Linked DNA regions of Homo sapiens. The protein of the gene in region 1 binds, or shares a complex with, the protein of each later gene. Each region holds a gene or a part of one and is shown in the gene's direction. Other genes may lie near its edges. The genes, in order: TBP, TAF1, TAF5 and TAF6.

Region 1 (6,842 bases):
TCTTTAAAAAAGGAATGCAAGAGAGAGAAAAGTTCCATTTACAAAGTGGGGTTTTAGGAAGACTGCTCTGACAATAACATAGTATGTGAAATGGGACAGAAACACTGTTCTAATACTACTAATGCAATAGTAAGGTAGCAGGGTGAACAGTAAATCCAAAATCATCACAAACACACAAAATAGACAAATTTTTATATCTACGCAAATGTTTTAGGAACTGGGAAAACCAATTATGACATCCAAGATTTAGAACTTAGATGAACAGAATGATGGCATAATTATAAGTATTTTAAAGGAGAGGAGGCCGGGCACGGTGGCTCACACCTGTAATCCCAACACTTTGGGAGGCTGAGGGGGGGGGGGGGGGTCAATTGCCTGAGATCAGGAGTTCGAGACCAGCCTGGCCAACATGGTGAAACCCATCTCTACTAAAAATACAAAAATTAGCCAGGCGTGGTGGCAGGCACCTGTAATCCCAGCTACTCGGGAGGCTGAGGCAGAAATGCGTGAACCCAGGAGTTGGAGGTTGCAGTGAGCTGAGATCGCACCGCTGCACTCCGGCCTGGGTGACAGAGTGAGACTCTGTCTCAAAAAATAAGAAGAAAGGAGAAGAGGAGATGAAGGGGAATAATTAGCTTGCTTTTTGTTTTGCTAGCTGTCTTGAGTTGCCCTGAGAGCAGAAAAACCAGTTAAAAATGTTTTACTGAAGAAGCCGAATCGAGGGACTCATGAGAGGCAGAACTGGAAAACCAGATTTGGGAGTAATCCTCCCAGCAATGAGACATGAAAGAGTGCTGAGCGATAAACAAGGCGGCTAATGACTTAACTACATTTAAAGACAGAGTAGGAAAAGAGAATGAGGCCTCATTTTGCGGAAGCGAAGGCTGCCTGAGAGCCAGCTGCAGTAAACACTAAAGAAAAAGAACAATGACTGAGAAAAAGTAATCAGAAAGATCTAAGTAATTTTTAGGGCAGTAATGGCTTAAACTGGATTACAAGGGATTAAAAAGTGAGTAACGAGTAGGGCATACTGAACACTGAAAATTCTTATTTATAGAGAATAGCCTTACGAAACGGGTCCAATAACCCTCCCTACAATATACAACTTAATTAGTCATCACAGGAAGTGTTAAGGTGTATAATGGAAAAGCATCCATAAACTCAGTGGTGAAATAGCTATGAATTAAGTCCTGGCTCAACTTCACACCAGCTCTCTGACCCTGACAGTTTAACGTCTAATATAACCCTAGGATGCTAATATCATCTAACATTCACTTTTCATGAGGATTAAATAAGATGACAGCTTGCAATTTACAAAATGCATCTCTCTTGATTCTCACCAAAAACTATGAAGCTACTAAGGAAGATAAGGAAATTTAGGTTCAAGAAGTTCAGAAGTACCCAAAGTGTCCTTTAGTGGCAGAACCAAGGCTAAAATCAGACTTTCGTTATCTTTCTAACACACTCCCAAAATGTGCATTTATATTTCAAATTTATGAGGAACCAATTAACATTTTTGCTTTGTTTTTAAAATTTATTTTTGTAGAGATGGGGTCTTGCTATGCTGCGCAGGCTGGTCTTCAACTCCTGGCCTCAAGCGATGATCCTCCTGCCTTGGCTTCCCAAAGTCCTGGGATTACAGGTGCGAGCCACACTGCCCAGCCAATATTTTCTGTTTTAAGAACCATCGGTTCGTTCAAATTGCGTGTGTATATTTTAATGTACAAGGCTTGATTGGTAACTATAACCACTGTTTCAATTTACAGCTCTTCCCTGTCAAGAGTCTTAAACAGAGCATCTTTCTATAACCCTAAATCTCTGGCGTGCCACCACGGAAAATTATACTACTCAAGATAAAGCTGGTAATTAAAATAAAAACCAAAACTTGAACATAACATACAAGAACACACATACTAAAAGGTCCATCTTCTGAGTATTTTGTTTTCCTGAACTTAAGCTAAACGTTAAAAAAAAAAAGCACTTATCTATGAAACTAAGTTTGCTCAGCCAATCCCACCTTCTATTTGAAATAAAACAAAATGATTAAACTGCTACAATTAGAAATAACAGAAATCAGGCGGCTACAATTAGACATCTCGGCTACCAACCCAGCTATGCATCTAACAACACAGACCAAACAACCCTAACTTTTAAGTTTCAGACGCTAACCCTCTACCCTCGCCGGCTGGCATAAGAAACGTGTACATGAGGTCCAGTTTTAATGGTCTTCCACAGAGCAGAGGCTATGTTTCAATTTCTACTTTACTGTCTTACAGCAGCAAGGAGCACGGAGTGGCGGTCCACATAAAAACTCAAATGACATGACTGTAATGGGAAACCCTAAAAACCAAGGCTGTATCGCAATCACCAAGTAAACTTGAGCAAAGCGAGCCTGAAGAGGGAAACACAGGGCATGAGAGGACGGCAGGGAGACCGGCCTTGTGCGGACCCCCTCAGCTCAGGGTTCTGAGGCCTGCAGGAGCCCGGGGCAGCGCCATCACGGCGGTGACTCCTAAATAGGCTTCAGCAGATGGGGGAAGGGCGAAAGTGAAAGCCGCAGCTCTCTGGGGTTTTTACCCTCCGTTGAAAACGTAGGGCGAAAATCGCAGCTGCAAAGGGCCCGCGGCTCTGTGCGGTTCCATCCCCAAGTCTCTGCCAGGAGCCGAATACATGGCTGTAGAGGACAACATCGCACGGCTGCGCCTGCGGATCCGACACTTGCTGTCTCACGGCGAGATGGCTGCCTTGACCGGACGTTACGCCACTTCCGGCTTCTCCTGAAGTTCGCTCCCGGCCTCTCTATCTCACGCTAGTCGTTGCTCCTGGAGGGCTGCACGGCGGCTTGTCCCTTTGGTAGTTGAATCCCGCCCATTCCAAAAAGCGCTGACAGGGATGTAAAGGGTTTTTTTTGTTTGTTTTTTGTTTTTTTCCCCCTCGAAGAAAACATTGGAATTCACCCCAATGGACAAAAATTTAAGTCTGACCATACAAAAAAATTGTCAGAACTATGGCGCAACGGCAACTCGAATAACGGTGGGAACGTTAATTGTCCTGGCTAATAAAAAATGTATATAACATTTCCTATCCTTAAAGAGCTCACAACCTCACTGATAATAAAAAGTACAAAGAAAACAAGCAGTATAACATATGATTACGCCACAATGAACTACAGAAGGGAAAATCAAGGCGTGCTGAAGTCCCACTAAGAAACAACTGCGGAAAGAGCCATGTGACAACAGTGCATGAACTGGGAGTGGCAGAACTGAATATAAATGCATGTGTAAACACAAGCTGTTTGTTTTGCTTAGTGTTCCTTGTCATTCTACACGCTTGAAGATCAGCTAGCGTTCTTGCTGACAGGTAAGGAGGACGCGCTTACTGAGTGCCAAGCACTGCTCAGGCACTGATTCTGTCAATCTCTGTCAATCTCCCGACAGCCCAAGGGTAAGCACTGTTATCATTATTCAATTTTACAGAAAAAAAATGCGGGGGAGAGGTCAGGTAACTTGTCGAAGGTAACGCCGCTAGTTGCTTTAAACAACAACAACAACAACAACAAAACACACTCACACATATACACACACACGCCATTTAAAAATCGATCTTTCCTACGTCCAGCAAGGGCCAATTAGAGATGGCTGTGGCACGGCGGCCCCGCCCCGGAACTCCTCAAGAGCTTCGCCCCTCCTTACCTATGGAAACACAGGAAGTGACCTATGCTCACACTTCTCATGGCCTCGGCCCTAGTGGGAGCAACTCGCTGAAGCCGAGGGCAGAACTGGCGGAAGTGACATTATCAACGCGCGCCAGGGGTTCAGTGAGGTCGGGCAGGTTCGCTGTGGCGGGCGCCTGGGCCGCCGGCTGTTTAACTTCGCTTCCGCTGGCCCATAGTGATCTTTGCAGTGACCCAGGTAACAGATTGTACTCTTTTCTGACGGTTCGGGCGAAGGCCACCACTGCACTGAGGCCTGGGGGCAATGGTGGGGAAGAGACTAGGAATTGGCGCGCGTGCAGGCCCCTCGGGGGACGTTCCTCCCTTTCGTGCTGCCGCCGTTCCGGCCTGTAACGGCCACTCGGCCGCCACTCCCGCCTGGTGCCCTACTCTGCTGTGTTTCGCAGGCAGCTTCCCATCGTACGATTGTGGGGCTCAGGGTACTACTGGCTGGCTGGGCGGCGGCAGGCGGGACAGGACAGTCCCTTGCATCGAAGACCCTAAGTTTACCCTGCCCTGTCCTGCCATCCGCTTCTTCTCCATGTTAGAAGCAGATTCACCCAGATCTGTGCCCGCCTGTTTTGCTGCCAACATTGAGACTTAAATATTTTGTCAGAAGCCTGAGACAGCGGGCACGGTAGCGCTTAAGATATAATACACACCACTTTATTTGCAGGGTCTCCCGTCTCTCGGTTCAGGCCATCATGGTTTTCCAAATCTCTAGGTAGACTTTTCTGTGAAAAGACTGTGCTTCATTTAGTTATACAGACACTAGAAGGCTATGCAGAATTAATTTGATTGCCTCCAAAAAATATCGGATTTGATGTTTCAATTTCCAGGAGATGAAGATACCCAGCAAACAACTCTTTTCTGAGGATAAATTAGTGCAGTAATCACTGTGCGGTTTCTTCTGTAGACTTACTTGCAAAAAGTGGCCTGAAGCCACCGAAGGTCCTGGATAAATCTCTAATCATACTTATAATGGCTTTAAATCCTGCCGTCATTATCTCTTGCCTCAACCTTAGATTCCTGAAACGAAACTTCCGTCCTCCAGTTTTACTCCTCTCAAATTCATCTAGTCTTGCCAAATTAGATCTGTTCATACTGCACTTCCGAAATTCCATAACTGTTATTATTGCCTATGCAATAACATTGAAAACTCCTGATAGTATGAGCCCACCAATATGTGCTGTCTCATCTGCTGCAGTGACCTTCTATACAGTCATACTAAGCTTGTTGCCTGCATACTGCATGCTTTTTCAATCTGTCTCTTTCTGCTTGATTTCTCTTTTGTCTGAAGCCCTGATGTGTAAATTCCTACTCACCTTGTGAGACCCAAGTTAGATGGTCCCTGCTTTGTGAAAACACTGCGCTCTCTTCACAGTGATTGGCTGTTAGTCTATATTGTCTTCTCTTCCAGGGGTGTATATGGGCTCATTCATGATCACATACTGTATTCCAGGCATAGTGCTAGATGCAGAGATCACAAAGACATGTAGGCTGGTTTCTGCATTCAAGGAACTTAGCTTAGACCATACCTGCTGTTATAATACTATGTTTTACAGTAGTTATTTGCATACCCTTCATATTGAACACTTTGATGCCAAGGACTATATCCTCCTATCTTTATATCCTCATCTGCAGGACTTCTGTTATTGTTATTATAGGATAACTGTCAAAAAAAAAGTATATTTTAAAAAATATCTCTGATATATTTATTTCCAGAAGCAGAGCTTGCTTTCTTTTTTGGTCTGTTTTTCAGTGATGAGTATGTAGGATAGATAGTCTTTGGGGGCCTTTGCCCTTTCAAAGTGATCGTCAGAGTCTTTCATACATTCAGCAAATATCTGAGTGTCTGTTCTGTACCAGCACATGCTTGAAGTGCATATGCCTGAAGGATCTTTGGACATATAATTTGTAACTTTGAGACCTCTAAGTTCTATGTGAGAATATGTTGTTATAAACTCATTTCAGATGTGTAGTGAGTAAAGCGATGATGATTTAAGAAAAGTCAGATAACAGGCACAGTTTGCATTAATGTGTTCTAAAGAGGTAAGGTTATTACATTTATAAAAATTCAGGGCTTTATCTTTGTGCGGCTTTTTTTTTTTTAACAGTTTCATTACAGTAGGAGCTTGATAAATGATCACTCTGAAGTATATTGGATTGAATTTGATATTTACTTAATTTTTTGCCCAAGACATTGTAGAGGATGTAAAATTGGAATATTTAAAGATCTAAACTTTGCCTAACAGTGCTGTGTATACAGTGCTTAGTGAATATTCTGCTCTGATATTACATTTTGCTTAGGAATTATTTTTCTCTAGGTGTTTTTCCTCAAAAGTTTTTAATGCTGGTTATGACAGCTCGATTTTGAGCATTTTCCGATTATTTAAACATGTAACAAAATGATTTTTGTTTTGTTGGCGATTTTACATGCAATCGCCGGAAACATGGAAGGAATAAAACTTTAGGATTATAAGGTAAAAACAAATGTATTCCAAAATAGCTTCATTGGTTTTCATGTTTGTGTTTTGTATAGCCATAGAACTGGCTTATAGGACTGTACAGGTTACCTGGATCCTTAAATTAAACTTTAGACTTTTTTCCAAAGCAGCATCACTGTTTCTTGGCGTGTGAAGATAACCCAAGGAATTGAGGAAGTTGCTGAGAAGAGTGTGCTGGAGATGCTCTAGGAAAAAATTGAATAGTGAGACGAGTTCCAGCGCAAGGGTTTCTGGTTTGCCAAGAAGAAAGTGAACATCATGGATCAGAACAACAGCCTGCCACCTTACGCTCAGGGCTTGGCCTCCCCTCAGGTAATATAGCAGGAGGGAGAGAATAGGGAGGGCGGAAATCTGAACTGCAAGAGATGGTATCAAAAGGCAAGGAAGGGCATTTAATGATCTGTTTTTGAAAATGGTTTAATATGTTTTTTAAGCCTTATTTTGTTGAGAAGTTCTATTAGGCTTTGAATAGGCACAATGGTGTTTATTTGGGAAGTCTGGAAGCTAAGTTATATATTTATGAAACACCTAATCTTTTGATAAACACTTATGAGAATGTTCCAAATGACTATATAGGGTCTTTGATTTTGAAAATCACCCTCACCAAATTATTTTCTAGTTTT
Region 2 (7,026 bases), on another chromosome or scaffold:
GTTACAATATTGGTTACTTATCAGAAAGTAGGGCCAGGTGTGGTGGCTCACACCTGTAATCCGAGCACTTTGGGAGGTGGAGGCAGATGATTTGAGGTCAGGAGTTCAAGACCAGACTGGCCAAGATGGTGAAACCCCGTCTCTACTAAAAATGCAAAAATTTAGCCAGCTGTCGTGGCGCATGACTGTAATCCCAGCTACTCAGGAGGTTGAGGCAGGAGAATCACTTGAACCCGAGAGAGAGAGGTTTCAGTGAGCTAAGATCTCACCACTGCACTCCAGCCTGTGCGACAGAGCAAGACTCTGTCTCAAAAAAAAAAAAACAACAAAAAATCGGAAAGTAGTAAATGTAGTAATAGTGTTTGTTTTCTCATCACAACCCTAGGGTACCAGGTACGTGGTGAGTTGGGGGACGATGGGAGATAACGAGTTAGAATGAGTTTTCTGGGTTGCATACTAGTATTATGATTTGGGTGCTTGGGCCTATATCTCCTGGCATTGAGCCATGTGTATAGCCTAAAGTGGGTGTTTGCGGAATTCGAGGAAATATGTTCACAGTTACATGCCAAAGGGGTTTCTCTTCCTTGTTGCAGTGTCTGAAAATGGAGAAGGCATCATCTTGCCCTCCATCATTGCCCCTTCCTCTTTGGCCTCAGAGAAAGTGGACTTCAGTAGTTCCTCTGACTCAGAATCTGAGATGGGACCTCAGGAAGCAACACAGGCAGAATCTGAAGATGGAAAGCTGACCCTTCCATTGGCTGGGATTATGCAGCATGATGCCACCAAGCTGTTGCCAAGTGTCACAGAACTTTTTCCAGAATTTCGACCTGGAAAGGTACATTCTGTGGAGAATGCTCAGATTGCAAACCACTGACCTCTTCCAAATAATGAGTTTTGTTGTTAAGATGCTGAGTATGGAATGGGGTTTCCTTACTCAGTGACATATTATTGGCTACATAAGAGCTCTTCACACTGTATTAGGTCTTTTTTTTAAAGTTGTATGTATTGATAGTAAATGTGATTTATGCTGTTCTCATTGGAAATTTCTCTGTTATCTTAAAAGAACTAGCCCAAATTATTAAGGAACGCTTCTTTACTTTCTTAGACGTTACAAGTCTGAATGCGACACTCCTTTGTTTCTCCCCCACATTTGAAGAGATCTCTCAAGGGAGTTTTCAGGCCCAGATGCTGCTGTTTTCCCATCTGACTTTGAGTCTGTGTCATAGTAATGTATTCTGTGTTCTAGGTGTTACGTTTTCTACGTCTTTTTGGACCAGGGAAGAATGTCCCATCTGTTTGGCGGAGTGCTCGGAGAAAGAGGAAGAAGAAGCACCGTGAGCTGATACAGGAAGAGCAGATCCAGGAGGTGGAGTGCTCAGTAGAATCAGAAGTCAGCCAGAAGTCTTTGTGGAACTACGACTACGCTCCACCACCACCTCCAGAGCAGTGTCTCTCTGATGATGAAGTAGGCAAAATAGAGACCTGAGATTAAGGCCTATGAGAGGAACAAATGAATTCAATGAGTTCTCCCTAATTTATGTCTAAATTGTAAATAATACCATAGCAGATAGAATCTGTGCTAATTTTCAATGAGTAATCATGGGTTCAATCTCAGTGGCTGCCCCTTCCCTATTGTAAAAGAAAAATGTTTGGTGGGGTAGGCGGGGATGAGAGGGGTAGATGGTGATATGCTGCTGAATAAGAAGGTTTGATTGATAGGTGGAATGTGCTATGATACATCTCCATTGTTTACATTCTAACTCCAGGTAAATCATCCTCAGTTTCTCTAAGTTCCCCTCCTGACTGTTAACTCTCTATAGCCTTAGGACATCTGGGATCAGGAAATTCTCCCTGCTCTACTTCTTTCTTCTGTTACAGATCACGATGATGGCTCCTGTGGAGTCCAAATTTTCCCAATCAACTGGAGATATAGATAAAGTGACAGATACCAAACCAAGAGTGGCTGAGTGGCGTTATGGGCCTGCCCGACTGTGGTATGATATGCTGGGTGTCCCTGAAGATGGCAGTGGGTTTGACTATGGCTTCAAACTGAGAAAGACAGAACATGAACCTGTGATAAAATCTAGAATGATAGAGGTGAGCAACACTGGTATGTAAGAAAGGAATCAATGTACTCAGGTCCTATTACTTTTACTAACTTTACTCTTTAATTGGGGAGATACTGGGTGGTAGGGTTTCTTTGGTGGGAGATTGAGGTGTCTCAGCCTTTTATTTGGTATGGTGTATCACCCTGGTAGCTAGGTCCTATTCTAAGGATTCTGTTTGTGAAATGAATGCTGTGCCAGACTAGGAGTGGGAAGAGGCAAATATTCCTCCGTTATCAGGTGGTTGTTTCAAGTAAAGGACCACTTACAATGTGTCTGATGTATCTTTAATGTGGAATTTGGAGTGGAAACCTTGACCAGTGACCAATCAAGGATGTGTTTTTTCTTCCCTACTTACACAGGAATTTAGGAAACTTGAGGAAAACAATGGCACTGATCTTCTGGCTGATGAAAACTTCCTGATGGTGACACAGCTGCATTGGGAGGATGATATCATCTGGGATGGGGAGGATGTCAAACACAAAGGGACAAAACCTCAGCGTGCAAGCCTGGCAGGCTGGCTTCCTTCTAGCATGACTAGGAATGCGATGGCTTACAATGTTCAGCAAGGTGTGCTTCTGTGCCAGCTGTGTCTAGCAGATACTGCCCTTAATCTTAGTCACCATAAGTGGGCTCAGCTGTGATTTTTTTTTTTTTTTTTTTTTTTCGGTGAGACAGAGTTTCGCTCTTGTTGCCCAGGATGGAGTGCAATGGTGCAGTCTCGGCTCACTGCAACCTCCGCCTCCCCAGTTCAAGCGGTTCTTCTGCCTCAGCCTCTGGAGTGGCTAGGATTACAGGCGTGCACCACGATGTCTGACTAATTTTTGTATTTTTAGTAGAGATGGGGTTTCTCCATGTTGGTCAGGCAGGTCTCGAACTCCCGACCTCAGGTGATCACCCGCCTCAGCCTCCCAAAGTGCTGGGATTACAGGTGTGAGCCACCACGCCCGGCTGGCTGTGATGTTCTGAGCTGCCAAGAGATAGTGAAATTTTTAGGATCTGAGGCCTAATTCTAGTCCCTGTAATTTTTATTTTATTTTTATGCTCAACCTGGAGGAAGATAGTCCATGTAATTTTTTGCCCTGTTAAGAAGCTAGGCCAGACTCAGGTTTCTTAAAAACATGTGATAAAGATCTTTTTTTTTTTTTTTTTTTTGAGACGGAGTCTTGCTTGCTCTGTTGCCTGGGCCGGAGTGTAGTGGCGCAATCTCAGCTCACTGCAATCTCTCCCTCCTGGGCTCAGGCGATTCTCCTGCCTCAGCCTCCCGGGTAGCTGGGATTACAGGCATGCGCCACCATGCCCATCTAATTTTGTATTTTTAGTAGCGATGGGGTTTCTCCATGTTGGTCAGGCTGGTCTCGAACTCCCGACCTTAGGTGATCTACCTGCCTCAGCCTCCCAAAGTGCTGGGATTACAGGCATGAGCCACCACGCCTGGCCTGAAGTTAAAGATCTTTCTGAACTATAACAGTACTTTATAGTATATTTTTGTTCCCAAGTCCCTTTGTATTTAGAATTCTAGTTTCCTATTTTTCTCCTTAAATAGGTTTTTTTTTTTAAGGTATGCCATGATTAATGTAAAAAACTTTGAAAATACAGTATAGTGTTAAAGTCACTGGTAATCTATCTGGAGATTATCAACTGTTAAGTTTTGGTGTATTTTCAGTGTTCTGTGTGTGTATGTAGTTGAGCTCATTTCCGTATGTACAGTTTTGCATACTGTGCTTTTCACTTACTAAATATTTTTCTCTCTTTCATTTTTTATTTTTCATTGTTGAGACAGGGCCTCACTTTGTTGCCCAGACTGGTTTCAAACTCCTAGACTCAAGTGATCTTCCTGCCTCGGTCTCCCAAAGTGCTGAGATTACAAGCAAGAGCCACCCCACCCAGCCACATAAATATTTTTGTGTCATTTAGAGTTCTTTATAAAAATGTTTAATGACATGGGAAACTCGTTCATTTTATTTTAATTAAATTATTATTTTTTGTAGAGGTAGAGTCTTGCTATTGTTGGTCAGGCTGGACTCCTGGGCTCAGGTGATCCTCCTGCCTCAGCCTCCCGAGTAGCCAAGACTTCAGGGGCATGCCACCACGTCTGGCTTGAGAAACTCATTTTAAATGGAAATAAAGAAGATATGAAACAACATATATGATATCCTATTAGTGTAAATGAAAAAAAGCAGACTATATAAACATAGAAAGCTGGATTACTTTTATATTTTGGAGGAAAAACAAAATTTTTTCTTTTTTGAGACAAGAGTCTCTGTCGCCCAGGGTGGAATGTGTTGGCGCGATCTTGGCTCACTGCAACATCTGCCTCCCAGGTTGAAGTGATTCTTGTGCTTCAGCCTCCCGAGTAGCTGGGATTATAGGCGTGCACCGCTGTGCCCAGCTAATTTTTGTATTTTTAGTAGAGACGGGGTTTCACCAGGTTGGCCAGGCTGGTCTTGAACTCCTGACCTCAAGTGATCTGCCTGCCTTGGTCTCCCAAAATGCTGGGATTACAGGCGTGAGCCACCACACCCGGATACAAAAATGTCTGATTTTTAAAACCTAAGAAATAGGTTTTTTCCCTTCCATTCTGCCCACTTTATGGGTTATATATTACTATTACGAATGTTTCATAATTTACCGATAACATGTTGCATTTGTTAATACAATTTATTACCATTTATTGTTAGCATACTTTACCATATCATTTATTGTCATAATTTAACCAATTCCTTCTTAAACATTTAGGCTATTTAAATTTCAACTATTATAAACAGTATTGCAGTGGACATTTTTGACTGCAACATTATTTTTATTTATTTATTTTTTGAGACAGAATTTCACTCTTGTTGCCCAGGTTGGAGTGCAATGGCACGATCTCAGCTCACTGCAATCTCTGCCTCCTGGGCTCAGGTGATTCTCCTGCCTCAGCCTCCTGAGTAGCTGGGATTACAGGCATGTGCCACCACACCCAGCTAATTTTTGTATTTTTTGTAAAGATGGGGCTTCTCAATGTTGGTCAGGTTGGTCTTGAACTCCTGACCTGAAGTGATCCACCTGCCTCGGCCTCCCAAAATGCTGTGATTACAGGTGTGAGCCACCGTGCTGAGCCTGCAACATTATTTTAAAGTGAGAAATACACTGTGTAGGTTCCTTTTCAGTGGACACATGAATAACTCCACTAACTCGCTCTACTAACATGAGTAACTCTTTTTATCTTTGCCAGAATCTTGATTGAAAGGGGCATAAATGTTTTCTCTGTTACTATTTCCTCCTTGCACTTTGACTAGGTTTTGCAGCCACTCTTGATGATGACAAACCTTGGTACTCCATTTTTCCCATTGACAATGAGGATCTGGTATATGGACGCTGGGAGGACAATATCATTTGGGATGCTCAGGCCATGCCCCGGCTGTTGGAACCTCCTGTTTTGACACTTGATCCCAATGATGAGAACCTCATTTTGGGTATATTACTGGCAGAGGCCAGTGTTTCTTCTCCTTTGAAAACTTGCTGTTAATGTCAACGGGCAGGAGGAAATCAGAAGGGTTGGAGATGATTAGGACTAGAAACCTGTAGGTAGCGGCTTGAGAGAGCGAAGTTTTGGCTGTTAGTTTATATTATTTGTGTATATGCTTAGGGAACACTCACGTAGGAATGTTGGAAAGTTGCAACTTTGAGATGTCAAGAGCATAGTTTGTTCCGTTAGTGAATCATGGACTCGAAACTTCTAGGTAGCAGTTTGAGAGAGCAAAATTGTGGCAGTTAGTTTTTATTATTTGTGTATTCCCTAGGGAAAACTCATGTAGGACTGTCGGAAAGTAGTACCTTTGAGATGTCAAGCGTGTAGTTCACTTAGTGAATCATGTACTAGAAGTGATTTGGGATGGGATGAAAAGATACAGGTGTAGTTCAGTTAGTAAATCGTGGACTAGAAGTTACCTGGGGGGGGGTGGGATGAAAGGTCTAGTTAAGACCTTCACTGGAACATCCGTCACCTTAAAGAAGAAAACTGGATACTTGTCTGTAGGAAAGGTGAATCTTCAGGGAGAGCAACTCAAGTGATTTTTGTTTTATTCTCAGAAATTCCTGATGAGAAGGAAGAGGCCACCTCTAACTCCCCCTCCAAGGAGAGTAAGAAGGAATCATCTCTGAAGAAGAGTCGAATTCTCTTAGGGAAAACAGGAGTCATCAAGGAGGAACCACAGCAGGTGTGTGAAGAAAAAAGGGGCTTGGTGTTTAGAAGAACAAAGAAAGGTAATAGAGAAGGATAGTCTGACCGAGATTTGTTTGATTATCTATCATTAGAACATGTCTCAGCCAGAAGTGAAAGATCCATGGAATCTCTCCAATGATGAGTATTATTATCCCAAGCAACAGGGTCTTCGAGGCACCTTTGGAGGGAATATTATCCAGGTACAAATAGTGTCTTTTCTGTGATAGAGGAGAACCCCATGGCTTTGTTCTGACGGAGGATATGGGAAAATCTTGCTTAGGATGGAATTAGCTAATTTTAACCCTTCTATTTCCTGTTTTAGCATTCAATTCCTGCTGTGGAATTACGGCAGCCCTTCTTTCCCACCCACATGGGGCCCATCAAACTCCGGCAGTTCCATCGCCCACCTCTGAAAAAGTACTCATTTGGTGCACTTTCTCAGCCAGGTCCCCACTCAGTCCAACCTTTGCTAAAGCACATCAAAAAAAAGGCCAAGGTATAATTGAATTCTGGTTAGAAAACAGCTATAAAGGATATTGGGGTATAAATTAAGGGAATGTACCAGGTATTAGATTGTATTAGGGAATTGGTTATTTTCTCAGATGTGATAGAATGTTATTTTGGTTATTTAGGAGAATGTCTTTATTGTTAGGTGATGCATGTGAAAATATTTAAAGGTGAGGTGTCAGAATGACTGCATCTTTCAAAAACTGT
Region 3 (7,026 bases), on another chromosome or scaffold:
ACCAATGGTGGGTATATTATTTTTCACTTAGGATATTTAAGTTCTTTTCTTAAAATGTTTGTGATACATTTCATTAGAGAATTACATTTGTTCATTTTTAGAATAAATTCAGAAACTGAATTATAGTCATTTTGAAATGAGTTACTTCTTATCCTACAGCTTAGTTCAGGATTATTTAGACTACTACATTGAAAATATTCTGGGATGGTTTATAAGTATATGGGGGAAAGGCAGATCCCTTAATGATTACATTGAAAAATGACTTTTTAAAATCACTGAAACAGGTTCCATGGAGATCAGGAATGTTATTACCAGGATGACCTACGAGTATTATCTAGTCTTACCAAAAAGGAACACATGAAAGGGAATGAGACCATGTTGGATTTTCGAACAAGTAAATTTGTTCTGCGTATTTCCCGTGACTCGTACCAACTCTTGAAGAGGCATCTTCAGGAGAAACAGAACAATCAGATATGGAACATAGTTCAGGAGCACCTCTACATTGACATCTTTGATGGGATGCCGCGTAGTAAGCAACAGATAGATGCGATGGTGGGAAGTTTGGCAGGAGAGGCTAAACGAGAGGCAAACAAATCAAAGGTATGGGAATGAACCTAAGAACTCTATAATGCAGATTATGAAAAATTGTAGCATTTCCATCTACATAAGTTACACATTTTTCTTATAGCTAGCTTGGAAACAATTTTTTTCGTTTGTTTGTTTTGAGACGGAGTTTTGCTCTTGTCACCCAAGCTGGAGTGCAGTGGCGTGATCTCAGCTCACTGCAACCTCCACCTCCTGGGTTCAAGTGATTCTCCTGCCTCAGCTTCCCGAGTAGCTGGGATTAGAGGCACACGCCACCAACCTGGCTAATTTTTGTATTTACTTTAGTAGAGACAGGGTTTCACCATGTTGGCCAGGCTGGTCTCGAACTCCTGACCTCAGATGATCCACCCGACTCCGCCTCCCAAAGTGCTGGCATAACAGGCGTGAGCTACTGCGCCTGGCCGCTTGGAAACAATTTTATACTGTATATAAAATTTTGTGTTCTAAGGGTGATGTTTATATGTGACAATTTGGGTATGGTTGCATTTTATGGAACCCTGAATGCAGTGGCTGAAACAAAGAATTTTTCTCCCATAAAATGAATTTCAGAGGAAGGCCTTCCAGGGCTGGCATGAAGGCTCCACAGTGCCATCAAGGTCCCTGGCTCCTTCTGGTTTCTGATCCACCATCTTCAGAATGTGGCTTTCCTCTTTGTGCTCACAAATGGCTGTTGCAGTTTCAGCATTGCAGCTCCGTTCCAAGAAGGAAGAAGGGGGAGGACAAAAGGCATATCTCTGCTGAAGCTTTCCCTTTTTAATCAGGAAAACAATATTTTTTTGATACAACCATACCCAGTATACTTATATGGACATTCCTAGCTGAAAGGGAGCCTGGGAACAGAAATGATTTAACTGAGCACATTGCTACTCCAATAAAATCAGGGTTCTGTTAGTAAGGAAAAAGGGGAGAATGGCTATTGGGTAGACAAATACAGAACCCTGCTTCAGAGTGTAAATTACTATTTTGTAATTGTGATTTATCCTATCAAGATGTAAAATGGGTATATTAATGAATAAATAATTTTAAAAATGTTGGCTCTTTTGACTTGTAGGTATTTTTTGGTTTATTAAAAGAACCAGAAATTGAGGTACCTTTGGATGACGAGGATGAAGAGGGAGAAAATGAAGAAGGAAAACCTAAAAAGAAGAAGCCTAAAAAAGATAGTATTGGATCCAAAAGCAAAAAACAAGATCCCAATGCTCCACCTCAGAACAGGTGAGGAAAAAACTTCAGGAACTTGTGTGTGGAGGTATAAGACAACATGTTATATAGAGTTCAAGTTTGTTAATAGTCAAAAGGTAATTTTGACTCTCTTTTTCTTTCACAGAATCCCTCTTCCTGAGTTGAAAGATTCAGATAAGTTGGATAAGATAATGAATATGAAAGAAACCACCAAACGAGTGCGCCTTGGGCCGGACTGCTTACCCTCCATTTGTTTCTATACATTTCTCAATGCTTACCAGGTTGGTAAAAAAATTGGGCGATTTCTGCCTGGAGAGTCATGTAGGATGATGATTTACCATTAAGAGAGAAACAAATGTATTAGCTAAAATGGAGTTTCGTTATTTAAACTCCTTTTTTTTTTTTTTCTGAGACAGAGTCTCGCTCTGTCGCCCAGCTGGAGTGCAGTGGCGCGATCTCAGCTCACTGCAATGTCCGCCTCCCAGGTTCATGCCATTCTTCTGCCTCAGCTTCCCCAGCAGCTGGGACTACAGGCGCATACCGCCATGCCCGGCTAATTTTTTGTATTTTTAGTAGAGATGGGGTTTCACCGTGTTAGCCAGGATGGTCTCGATCTCCTGACCTTGTGATCCGCCTGCCTCAGCCTCCCAAAGTGCTGGGATTACAGGCATGAGCCACCGCATGTGGCCCCTAAACTCTTATACAATTTAAAGACAGCATTCAGGAAGAGAGAATTGGATACTGCACAGAATAGATAGAAGTCAATGTTTAATGGCATTTGTTTCACCGATCAGAATTCTGCTAGCCTTTGAGGAGGAGCAAATTGTAGTTCATTTCTGTTGAACTTGGTTTAAGTACTTACGTAAACTTATTTATCAATTTTTTTTTTTTTTTGAGACAGAGTTTTGTGCTGTCACCTAGGGTGGAGTGCAGAGGTGAGATCTCAGCTCACTGCAACCTCTGCCTCCCGGGTTCAAACGATTCTTGTGCCTCAGCCTCGGCCTCCTGAATAGCTGGGATTACAGGCACCCTCCACCATGCCTGGCTAATTTTTGTATTTTTAGTAGAGACAGGATTTTGCCGTGTTGCCCAGGCTGGTCTTGAACTCCTGACCTCAAGTGATCTGGCCGCCTCAGCCTCCCAAAGTGCTGGGATTACAGGCGTGAGCCACCGTGCCCAGCCATATAAACCTTATTTTATTTTATTATTTTAATTTAATTTCATTTTTTGAGATGGAGTCTTGCTCTGACACCTAGGCTGGAGTGCGGTGGTGCAATTTTGGCTCACTGCAACCTCCGCCTCCCAGTTCAAGTGATTCTCCTGCCTCAGCCTCCTGAGTAGCTGGGATTATAGGCATGAGCCACCACGCCCAGCTAATTTTTGTATTTTCAGTAGAGAAGGGGTTTCACCAGGTTGACCAGGCTGGACTTGAATTCCTGAGCTCAGGCAATCCACCCGCCTCAGCCTCCTAAAGTGCTGTGATAACAGGCATGAACCCCCGCGCCCGGCCAAACTTAGTATTTTATTTTATTATTATTTTTTTTTTGAGATGGAGTCTCACTCTGTCGCCCAGGCTGGAGTGCAGTGGCACGATTTTGGCTCACTGCAACCTCTGCCTCCTGGGTTCAAGTGATTCTCTTGCGTCAGCCTCACAAGTAGATGGGATTACAGGTGCCCACCACCCTGCTTGGCTAATTTTGGTATTTTTAGTAGAGATGGGGTTTCACCATGTTGGCCAGGCTGGTCTTGAACTCCTAACCTCAGGTGATCCACCTGTCTCAGCCTCCCAAATTGTTGGGATTACAGGCATGAGCCAGTGCGCTTGGCCAATATTTTAAATCAAGAATTTTAAAAGTCTTTATATATTCCTTAAAATAGAGGATTGAGGAGATATTTAGTATAGTGTGAAAATGATTAACATTTGCTTCCTATCTCTAAATATCCTAAAATAGTATTGTTTAGTCTAACCCTTTTATTGGCAGGGTCTCACTGCAGTGGATGTCACTGATGATTCTAGTCTGATTGCTGGAGGTTTTGCAGATTCAACTGTCAGAGTGTGGTCGGTAACACCCAAAAAGCTTCGTAGTGTCAAACAAGCATCAGGTAACTGAGATGACCTTTTGGAATGTGAACTTGCCATTAGTCTATACCAATCTTGATTCCATGGAAAATACACAGGAGATTGTGTTCTTTACAGAAATTCACTTGATTTTACTTTAACTCAAGATTCTAACATTCCCAACAGTGAAAAAAGCTTTGGAGTGACTGGGGTGCTAGACTGGTTTAATTTCTTTAGGTCTCAGTTTTCTCATCTGTAGAATGAGTGAGTATTAAGCTAAAAAACTTAAAGTTAAAAATCTAACATTTTATGATTGCTTGTAAATCTTAAAAAATCTTTAAATAAGGGATGGTACTTCCTGTTTTAGTCATAAAAATGGCTAAAAAGAACAAATAAGGTCAGGATTTTATTTGAAAGTTTTTTACTTTTTGTTTTTTTGAGACAGAGTCTCGCCCTGTCACCCAGGCTAGAGTGCAATGGCGCAGTCTTGGCTCACTACAGCCTCTACCTCCCAGGTTCAAGGGATTTTCTTGTGTCAGCTCCCCAGCTCCCCAGTAGCTGGGATTACAGGTGCCCACCACCATGCCCAGGTAATTTTTGTATTTTTAGTAGAGATAGGGTTTCGCCATGTTGGCCAGGCTGGTCTCGAACTCCTGACCTCAAGTGATCCGCCTGTCTGGCCTCCCAAAGTGCTGGAATTATAGGTGGCTCACTGCAACCTCCACCTCCCTGGTTCAAGCGATTTTCCTGCCTCCACACCCGGCCTGAAATAAAGTTTTTTACTAACTATATTATTTAAATAAAACAATATATTTTAAATTATTTCAATATTTCCATAGGTTTTTTTTTTTTAATTTTAAATTTTTTTTAGATGGGGTCTCACTCTGTTGCCCAGGCTAGAATGCAGTGGTGTGATCACGGCTCACTGCAGCCTCTAATCCCTGGGCTGAAGTGATCCTCCCACTTCAGCCTCCTGAGTAGCTGAGACTACAGGTGTGTGCAACCACACTGGCTAATTTTTTATTTTTTGTAGAGACAGGGTTTCTCCATGTTGTCCAGGCTGGTCTCGAACTCCTCTGGGCTCAAGCAATCTGCCCGCCTTGGCCTACCAAAATTCTGAGACTACAGGTGTGAGCCACCATGCCTGGCCCATAGTTTTCATTTTGTGAAACACTGTGGCATAGTGGGCAAAACTGAGTTTCAGTTCTGGTTCCCACACTGAGTAGCTGTGTGCACTCTAGCAAATTATCTGTTCTGAACGTCATTTTCTTCTCTTACACGCTGAGATGATACTGCCTAATTTAGAGGGATTAGCAAAGTGCGGTTGGTATATAGGAGGAAATTTTCAAATGTTAATTCCTCTCCTGCACTGTGATATGATTACTTTAAAAGTTTTGATGAATGTACTTATAAAATATCAATATTTCTGGACCATTTTAGATCTTAGTCTTATAGACAAAGAATCAGATGATGTCTTAGAAAGAATCATGGATGAGAAAACAGCAAGTGAGTTGAAGATTTTGTATGGTCACAGTGGGCCTGTCTACGGAGCCAGCTTCAGTCCGGATAGGTAAAATACAAACAATAAAAATTAAATACTGCTATGTTATATTGAAATTATATAAAAGTTAACTACTGGAAACATTATGCAAATGCTGGGAAAATTCTGATAAAAATCTCATGGTTGTCTGACGTTCATCATCTTTTAGAATCTTGCCATTTGCTAATTCATCTTTGAATCCTGGTGTTTGTACATGGTAGCAATTTAATGTATACTCACTTTTTTTTTTTTTTTTTTGAGACAGAGTTTCGCTCTTGTTGCCCAGGTTGGAGTGCAATGGCGTGATCTTGGCTTACCGCAACCTCCGCCTCCTGGGTTCAAGCGATTCTCCTGGCTCAGCCTCCTGAGTAGCTGGGATTACAGGCATGCGCCACCACACCTGGCTAATTTTATTTTTTTATTAGAGATGGGGTTTCTCCATGTTGGTCAGGCTGGTCTTGAACTCTCAACCTCAGGTGATCTGCCCACCTCAGCCTCCCAAAGTGCTGGGATTACAGGCGTGAGCCACTGTGCCTGGCCTGTATACTCAAATTTATAGAATCAAAATGCACAGTTTCAGGGCTTACTGGTTTTAAAAATTAGCTTTAGTATTTCCCTTTTTTTTTTTTAATTATTTTTATTTGTTACCCAATGGTAAATAACCAACCAAAGCTTTAGTTTTATAGAACTCCATTAGGGGTTGAATTGCTTCATTGGGTCCCTGCATTGTGTCTTCTGGCTGCTTCATCAAATTTAAGACAAATTCCTGACATTAATGGCATATTAGCTAGTAATTGAGGATTAATCTTTCTATAATCAAAAGTACTAAGAGTAAATGAAAAAGGAAATTCAAAATTGGTTTGCTTCCCTTTAGGTGTATGATTACAATGTCATCCTATGTGTATAGGTATTTGCCTATTTTTCATGATCTCTAACACTGTAAAAATGGGTGGAGGGTGTTTTGTATTCATAATACCATCAGTATATTACTTGGATAGATAATAGCTTTCAGGCCGGGCACAGTGGCTCACGCCTATAATCCCAGCACTTTGGGAGTCCAAGACAGGCGCATCACCTGAGATCAGGAGTTTGAGACCAGCCTGGCCAACATGGGAAATCCTGTCTCCACTAAAAAGTACAAAAATTAGCAGGGTGTGGTGGCGCCCACCTGTAATCCTGGCTACTTGGGAGGCCGAGGCAGGAAAGTCACTTGAACATGGGAGGCAGAGGTTGCAATGAGCCGAGATTGCACCACTGCACTCCAGCCTGGGTGATAAGAGCAAAACTCCATCTCAAAAAAAGAAGAAAAGAAAAAAAGATAATAGCTTTCCATCCATCAAGGTTTCATCATTACGAAACTTTGAGAATTAGGTTTTTTGTTGCTTGATAAGGTTTTGCCAGATGATACATTTTTGAGGGAAACGTCTGATTTCAGTGAAAATTGTAATAACCTTCTGACTATCAATCTTTTGTGTTTATGCTTGAAAAAGGTAGAGAATTATTAGCATGTCTGTAGTTTTTTTTTCTTTTTCTTCAAAAGACATTTCCTTTTTAATTCTTACATAGCTTACACAGCATGGGAAAATAGCATCTTTATTTTAGGGTCAAAAATTGTTGAGTTTTAAGTGACATATCACAT
Region 4 (7,026 bases), on another chromosome or scaffold:
TTACAGGCGTGAGCCACTGTGCCTGGCCTGAGATGGGGTTTTGCTATGTTGCCCAGGGTGGTCAGGAATTCCTAAGCCCAAGCAGTCTTCCCACCTCACCCTCCCAAAGTGCACAGATTACAGGCATGAGCTGAGCCACTGCACCTGCCCATTATAAGGATTTCAGGTTTTACTTTATGGCAAGTGGAGAGCCATTATGAGGGTTTGAGCAAAGAAATGACAATCTGCTTTACAGTTTGACAGAAGCATTTTGGCTGCAACGTTAGGAATAGATGTAGAGAAAGGCAAGGGTAGACTCCGGTTGACATTGTTAGGAGGTTTTTGGAGTTACCCAGTGGATAGATGATGGTGACCTGGGCCAAGCAGTGGGAGCAGAGGAGTCAGGTTGGACTACCTGGTGGATTGATTGATTTTTGAGACAGAGTCTCGCTCTGTCGCCAGGCTGGAGTCCAGTGGCACGATCTTGGCTCACTGCAACCTCCACTTCCCAGGTTCAAGTGATTCTCTTGCCTCAGCCTCCCGAGTAGCTGGGACTACAGGTGCGTGCCACCACGCCAAGCTAGTTTTTGTATTTTTAGTAGAGATGGGATTTCACCATGTTGGCCAGGATGGTCTCCATCTCTTGACCTGGTGATCCGTCCGCCTCGGCCTCCCAAAGTGCTGGGATTACAGGTGTGAGCCAACGCGCCCGACCGGATTTATTTTTTTACCTTTTTTTTTTTTTTGAGACAGAGTCCATCTGTCACTGAGGCTGGAGTGCAATGGCGCAATCTCAACTCACTGCAAACTCTACTGCCGAGGCTCAAGTGATTCTCCTGCCTCAGCCTCCCAAGTAGCTGGGATTACAGGCACGCGCCACCATGCCCAGCTAATTTTTGTATTTTTAGTAGAGAAAGGGTTTTACCATGTTGCTCAGGCTGGTCTCGAACTCCTGACCTGAAGTGATCCACCCACCTTGGCCTCCCAAATTGCTGGAATTACAGACGTGAGCCACCGCACCTGGCCTACCTGGTGGATTTGATGTGAAGGCTCAGATAAAGAACAAGTGTCTGGATGGATGGCATTGCTATGAAGATAAGGAAAGCTGAGCCTGGGCCAGACACTTCGGCTCACGCCTTTAATTCCAACACTTTGAGAGGCCAACGCTGGAGGATTGCTTGAGCCCAAAACTTCAAAGTGGTGGGATTGAAGCCCTGAGGTGTAACAGAAAAAGATAAAAATCTGGGCTGGGCCTGGTGGCTCAGGCCTGTAATTCCAACACTTTGGGAGGCCGAAGCAGGAGGACTGCGTGAGCCCAGCAGTTCAAGACCAGCCTGGACAACATAGTGAGACTCTGTCTCTGCCCCTGCCCCTGCAAAAAATTGGCTGTGTGTAGTGGTACACACCTATAGTCCCAGCTACTTGGGAGGCTGAGGTGTGAGGATTGCTTGAGCCTAGGAGCTCCTGGGCTCTATCAGTTTTCCCACCTCTGCCTCCTGAGTAGCTAGAACAACAGCCCTGTGCCTGCATACCCAGCTAATTTTTGTATTTTTTGTACAGATGGGGTCTCACTGTGTTGTCCAGGCTGGTCGTGAACTGCTGGGCTCAAGCGATCCTCCTACCTTGGGCTCCCAGAGTGTTGGAATTACAGGCATGAGCCACTAGGCCCAGTCCAGATTTTTTTTTTTTTTTTCCTGAGACGGAGTCACCCTGGCTGGAGTGCAGTGGCGTGATCTCGGCTCACTGCAACCTCTGCCCTCTGGTTTCAAGTGATTCTCGTGCCTTAGTCTCCCTAGTAGCTGGGATTACAGGTGTGCACTACCACGCCCTGCTAATTTTTGTATTTTTAGTAGAGATGGGGTTTCTCCATGTTGGCCAGGCTGGTCTCGAATTCCTGACCTCAAGTGATCCGCCCGCCTCGTCCTCCCAAAGTGCTGGTGGGATTACAGGCGTGAGCCACTGAACCTGGCCCCAGCCCAGATTTGTATCTTTCTCTGTTACACCTCAGGGCTGACTCACGTGGGGATGGACATAAGACACTCGGAGTTCCTCCCCTGTCTCCACTGTCCTCCCTTTGTTGGCCCTCTCCCTGTGTCTCACGTTTCTTTTTCTTCTGCCTGCCCCGTTCCTCTGCCAGGGTCTCCGTCTCTCCACCGGGGGCTTCATCCTTCCAGGGAGGAGAAGAGGGACTCCAGAATGGCTGAGGAGAAGAAGCTGAAGCTTAGCAACACTGTGCTGCCCTCGGAGTCCATGAAGGTGGTGGCTGAATCCATGGGCATCGCCCAGATTCAGGAGGAGACCTGCCAGCTGCTAACGGATGAGGTCAGCTACCGCATCAAAGAGATCGCACAGGTGACCCGGCCCTTCTGTCCAGCTCTACATTGGGTCCATGTCACCCAGGGCCCCGTCCTTAGGATTTTGGGCTGATGTCTGTTCTGTCACCGACCCCAGGATGCCTTGAAGTTCATGCACATGGGGAAGCGGCAGAAGCTCACCACCAGTGACATTGACTACGCCTTGAAGCTAAAGAATGTCGAGGTGATTTGGGGAGACAGGCGGGGGGGGGGTGAGACGCCATCCTTCAGCCAGGTCTCCTCCGGCTCCCTTCTTACCCATGCCCCTCTCTCCTGCCACAGCCACTCTATGGCTTCCACGCCCAGGAGTTCATTCCTTTCCGCTTCGCCTCTGGTGGGGGCCGGGAGCTTTACTTCTATGAGGAGAAGGAGGTTGATCTGAGCGACATCATCAATACCCCTCTGCCCCGGGTGCCCCTGGACGTCTGCCTCAAAGGTTGGGGGAGGGGAGAGCAGGGTGGCAGGGAGGAGGGAAAGGAGGACAGATGTGTGTAGGTGTGAGGAGCCTCACAATAGAAGAAAAGCTCAGTGTGAGATCCCTGGTGAGTTGCAAGGGGAGCAGGAGTGGAAACACGCTTCCATAGCATGGGGCAACTCCCCAATGTCCATGCGTGGCAATTCACCTTGACACCTGCCTTCCTTGCAGCTCATTGGCTGAGCATCGAGGGCTGCCAGCCAGCTATCCCCGAGAACCCGCCCCCAGGTAACCTCCATGCCCCACCCTCTGGGTCTCTGGGTCCCTTTCCCCTTCCTTCCACCTTTTTTTTTTGAGACAGAGTCTCACTCTGTTGCCTGTGCTGGAGTGCAGGAGTGCTGGAGTGCAGTGGCTCAATCTTGGCTCACTGCAAACCTGTGCCTCCTGGGTTCACGCGATTCTTGTGTCTCAGCCTCCTGAGTAGCTGGGACTACAAGCACACACCACCACGCCCGGCTAATTTTTTGTAATTTTAGTAGACACGAGGTTTCACCATGTTGGCCAGGCTGGTCTCGAACTTCTGACCTGAGGTGATCCACCCGCCTTGGCCTCCCAAAGTGCTGGGATTACAGGCATGAGCCACCGCATCCGGCCTCCTCCCACCTTTTACTTTTCTACTATGCTCATCACCCCTCCCGCTGTGCCTGCTTTCCCACCAGCTCCCAAAGAGCAACAGAAGGCTGAAGCCACAGAACCCCTGAAGTCAGCCAAGCCAGGCCAGGAGGAAGACGGACCCCTGAAGGGCAAAGGTCAAGGGGCCACCACAGCCGACGGCAAAGGTCAGTCCTCCTAGGCTAGGCCTCTCTGGACTCTTGCCCAAAGCCACATGGCCGTTTGTTTTGTTTCCTTTTTTTTTGTTTTTGAGACAGAGTCTCACTCTGTCACCCAGGCTGGAGTGTAGTGGTACGATCTCAGCTCACTGCAACCTCCACCTCCAGGGTTCAAGCGATTCTCCTGCCTCAGCCTCCTGAGTAGCTGGGCTTACAGGTGCCCACCACCACGCCCGGCTAATTTTTGTAATTTTTTTTAGTAGAGACAGGGTTTTGCTATGTTGGCCAGGCTGGTTTCAAACTCAGCCTCATGTGATCCGCCCGCCTTGGCCTCCCAAAGTGCTGGGATTACAGGTGTGAGCCACCATGCCAGGCCTCCATGTGGCCATTGGTGAAGTGGCTGAGGTCAGGGCCAGAGCCCCAGAAAGGATGGGGGAGCCTAAGAAGAAGCCAGGTCTCCTGGGTCTCAGGGGAAGTGGAGGGTTAAGGTTCTTCTGTTACTGAGGTTTCTTCTGGAGCTTTCTTTGTCAGACCCACCTTTCCAATCACACAGGGAAAGAGAAGAAGGCGCCGCCCTTGCTGGAGGGGGCCCCCTTGCGACTGAAGCCCCGGAGCATCCACGAGTTGTCTGTGGAGCAGCAGCTCTACTACAAGGAGATCACCGAGGCCTGCGTGGGCTCCTGCGAGGCCAAGAGGGCGGTGAGGGCCCCACCAGCTTGCCCTGGCCCTGAGACGCCTCCTCCTGGGGGCCCTATGAATTGCTCCCCACATCCCACCCCCACCTGACTGGCTTCCCTCCTCCCACAGGAAGCCCTGCAAAGCATTGCCACGGACCCTGGACTGTATCAGATGCTGCCACGGTTCAGTACCTTTATCTCGGAGGGGGTGAGAGCATGAGGTTCCACAGTGCAGGGACGGCAGTGGAAGCTCCTGTGAGGGTCTCCCTGCCCCATGCCCAGCACTTCTCCCTCCCACAGGTCCGTGTGAACGTGGTTCAGAACAACCTGGCCCTACTCATCTACCTGATGCGTATGGTGAAAGCGCTGATGGACAACCCCACGCTCTATCTAGAAAAATACGTGAGTGATCCTGCCCATCCTCCCTTCCAGGGACTAGGGACCCTGCTGCCACCAACAGGAAGTCAGTGGTCAGCAGTGGCTCACACCTGAAATCCCAGCAACTTTGGGAGGCCGAAGTGGGAGGATTGCTTGAGCTCAGGAGTTTGAGGACAGCCTGAGGACAGTAGTGAGACTGCTATCTCTACAAAAAAAATTAACCAAAACAAAATTAGCCAGGCATGGTGGTGCACACCTGTGGCCCCAGCTACCTGGGAGGCTGAGATGGGAGAATTGCTTGAGCCCGGGAGATTGATGCTGCAGTTAGCCATGATTGTGTCCCTGCACACCAGCCTGGGTGACAGAGCAAGACTTTATCTCAAGCAGACAAACAAAACCAGAATCAGCTGTCCCGCCCTTTCTCCCTTAGGTCCATGAGCTGATTCCAGCTGTGATGACCTGCATCGTGAGCAGACAGTTGTGCCTGCGACCAGATGTGGACAATCACTGGGCACTCCGAGACTTTGCTGCCCGCCTGGTGGCCCAGATCTGCAAGCATTTTAGCACAACCACTAACAACATCCAGTCCCGGATCACCAAGACCTTCACCAAGGTGAGCCAGGAAAACTTGAGCGTCATTTGCTTCATCACTGGCCACCTCTGGTTGGGGGAAGTCACACTGGAAACAAGGGGGCAGAGGGAAGAGGGACTGGAACTTGTGGGGGTCTAAGGGTCTTGAGGCTTGTCTGTAATACCTTTTTTTTTTTTTTTTGAGATGGAGTCTCGCTCTTGCCCAGGCTGGAGTGCAGTGGTGCAATCTCTGCTGACCGCACCCTCTGCCTCCTGGGTTCAAGCGATTCTTCTCCCTCAGACTCTTGAGTACTTGGGATTACAGGCACCTGCCACCACAACTGGCTAATTTTTTTGTTTTTGTTTTTTTGAGATGGAGTTTCGCTCTTCTTGCCCAGGCTGGAGTGCAATGGTGCAATCTTGGCTTACCACAACCTCCGCCTCCTGGGTTCCAATGATTCTCCTGCCTCAGCCTCCCGAGTAGCTGGGATTACAGGCATGTGCCGCCACACCCAGCTAATTTTGTGTTTTTAGTAGAGACGGGGTTTCTCCATGTTGGTCAGGCTGCTCTAGAACTCCCGACCTCAGGTGATCTGCCTGCCTTGGCCTCCCAAAGTGCTGGGATTACGGGTATGAGCCACTGCACCTGGCCACAACTGGCTAATTTTTGTATTTTTAGTAGAGACAGAGTTTCACCATGTTGACTAGGGTGGTCTGGAACTCCTGACCTCAGGTGATCTGCCTGCCTCGGCCTCCCAAAGTGCTGGGATTACAGGTGTGAGCCACCACGTCTGGCCTCATTGTAATGTCTTAATGATTTACAAGGAAAGTGTCTATGAAAGACTTAGGTCCCTGTCAATCATCCTTTCAGACCCCTTCATCTTAGTTTATTTCCTTCCCCTTACAGAGCTGGGTGGACGAGAAGACGCCCTGGACGACTCGTTATGGCTCCATCGCAGGCTTGGCTGAGCTGGGACACGATGTTAGGCCTCTGGGAGGAAGAAATGGGGGAGGGGACACAGTCATGAGGTTATAGAGGGCACTGTACCCCCATCTGGGAGACCCTGGTGACCCTCCGGCTTTTGCTTGTCCTTTTCCCTTCTAACAGGTTATCAAGACTCTGATTCTGCCCCGGCTGCAGCAGGAAGGGGAGCGGATCCGCAGTGTGCTGGACGGCCCTGTGCTGAGCAACATTGACCGGATTGGAGCAGACCATGTGCAGAGCCTCCTGCTGGTGACTGAAGCCCCTGTCCCCACACCTGCCCACTGAGACACAGGCAGTGTTTAGCAAGCATATGGCATATTTTATTCACTTACTCCCATCTTTGCCTCATGTTTTCAGAGGACATTGCAGAGTCTGATACTATTTTACAGATGGAAAGACTGAGATTAGACTGAGTAAGAAATAAGGGGGCTGGGCATGATGGCTTCTGCCTGTAATCCCAGCACTCTGGGAGCCTAGGAGTATGAGGCCAGCCTGGACAACGTAGCGAGATCCCACCTGCAAAAAAAAAAACCAAAAAGCCGGGAGTGGTGACGTGTCTGTGGTCCCAGCTACTAGGGAGGCCGAGGTGGGAGGATTGCTTGAACCCAGGAGTTCAAGGCTACAGAGAGCTATGATCGTGCCACTGCACTCCAGCCTGGGTTACAGAGGGAGACCACCGCCCCCCAAAAAAGAAGGGTTTAACACGCTCAGCCTGTGGCATTTGGACCATCCTTCCCCAATGCTCCTGTTACTCTGTGGTCTTCTCTGTACAAGGCAAATGCGCTCTTGATTAACCATCCTGCCACAGTATTTAGCAAGTTCATTCACACATTAGTGC

The links.
Region 2: TBP (region 1) and TAF1 share a complex: the UniProt entries of both Homo sapiens proteins name them as parts of the TFIID-containing RNA polymerase II pre-initiation complex.
Region 3: TBP (region 1) and TAF5 share a complex: the UniProt entries of both Homo sapiens proteins name them as parts of the TFIID basal transcription factor complex.
Region 4: TBP (region 1) and TAF6 share a complex: the UniProt entries of both Homo sapiens proteins name them as parts of the TFIID basal transcription factor complex.

The regions. Positions count from the first base shown.
Region 1 is NC_000006.12:170,550,553-170,557,394, forward strand, and holds the start of TBP (TATA-box-binding protein), read left to right. Parts: upstream 1-3,816; 5' UTR 3,817-3,911; intron 3,912-6,329; 5' UTR 6,330-6,477; coding exon 6,478-6,531; intron 6,532-6,842. Other genes in the region: PSMB1 (proteasome subunit beta type-1), read right to left, coding at 2,578-2,690. UniProt on the Homo sapiens protein: The TFIID basal transcription factor complex plays a major role in the initiation of RNA polymerase II (Pol II)-dependent transcription.
Region 2 is NC_000023.11:71,376,357-71,383,382, forward strand, and holds part of TAF1 (transcription initiation factor TFIID subunit 1), read left to right. Parts: intron 1-593; coding exon 594-835; intron 836-1,246; coding exon 1,247-1,465; intron 1,466-1,878; coding exon 1,879-2,097; intron 2,098-2,467; coding exon 2,468-2,675; intron 2,676-5,386; coding exon 5,387-5,563; intron 5,564-6,179; coding exon 6,180-6,307; intron 6,308-6,404; coding exon 6,405-6,512; intron 6,513-6,634; coding exon 6,635-6,808; intron 6,809-7,026. UniProt on the Homo sapiens protein: The TFIID basal transcription factor complex plays a major role in the initiation of RNA polymerase II (Pol II)-dependent transcription.
Region 3 is NC_000010.11:103,377,951-103,384,976, forward strand, and holds part of TAF5 (transcription initiation factor TFIID subunit 5), read left to right. Parts: intron 1-284; coding exon 285-600; intron 601-1,657; coding exon 1,658-1,821; intron 1,822-1,933; coding exon 1,934-2,069; intron 2,070-3,770; coding exon 3,771-3,891; intron 3,892-5,287; coding exon 5,288-5,417; intron 5,418-7,026. UniProt on the Homo sapiens protein: The TFIID basal transcription factor complex plays a major role in the initiation of RNA polymerase II (Pol II)-dependent transcription.
Region 4 is NC_000007.14:100,109,359-100,116,384, reverse strand, and holds part of TAF6 (transcription initiation factor TFIID subunit 6), read left to right. Parts: intron 1-86; exon of another isoform or gene 87-539; intron 540-2,116; coding exon of another isoform or gene 2,117-2,175; coding exon 2,176-2,331; intron 2,332-2,430; coding exon 2,431-2,517; intron 2,518-2,615; coding exon 2,616-2,769; intron 2,770-2,979; coding exon 2,980-3,036; intron 3,037-3,467; coding exon 3,468-3,587; intron 3,588-4,131; coding exon 4,132-4,277; intron 4,278-4,385; coding exon 4,386-4,463; intron 4,464-4,555; coding exon 4,556-4,657; intron 4,658-5,063; coding exon 5,064-5,246; intron 5,247-6,110; coding exon 6,111-6,185; intron 6,186-6,311; coding exon 6,312-6,437; intron 6,438-7,026. UniProt on the Homo sapiens protein: The TFIID basal transcription factor complex plays a major role in the initiation of RNA polymerase II (Pol II)-dependent transcription.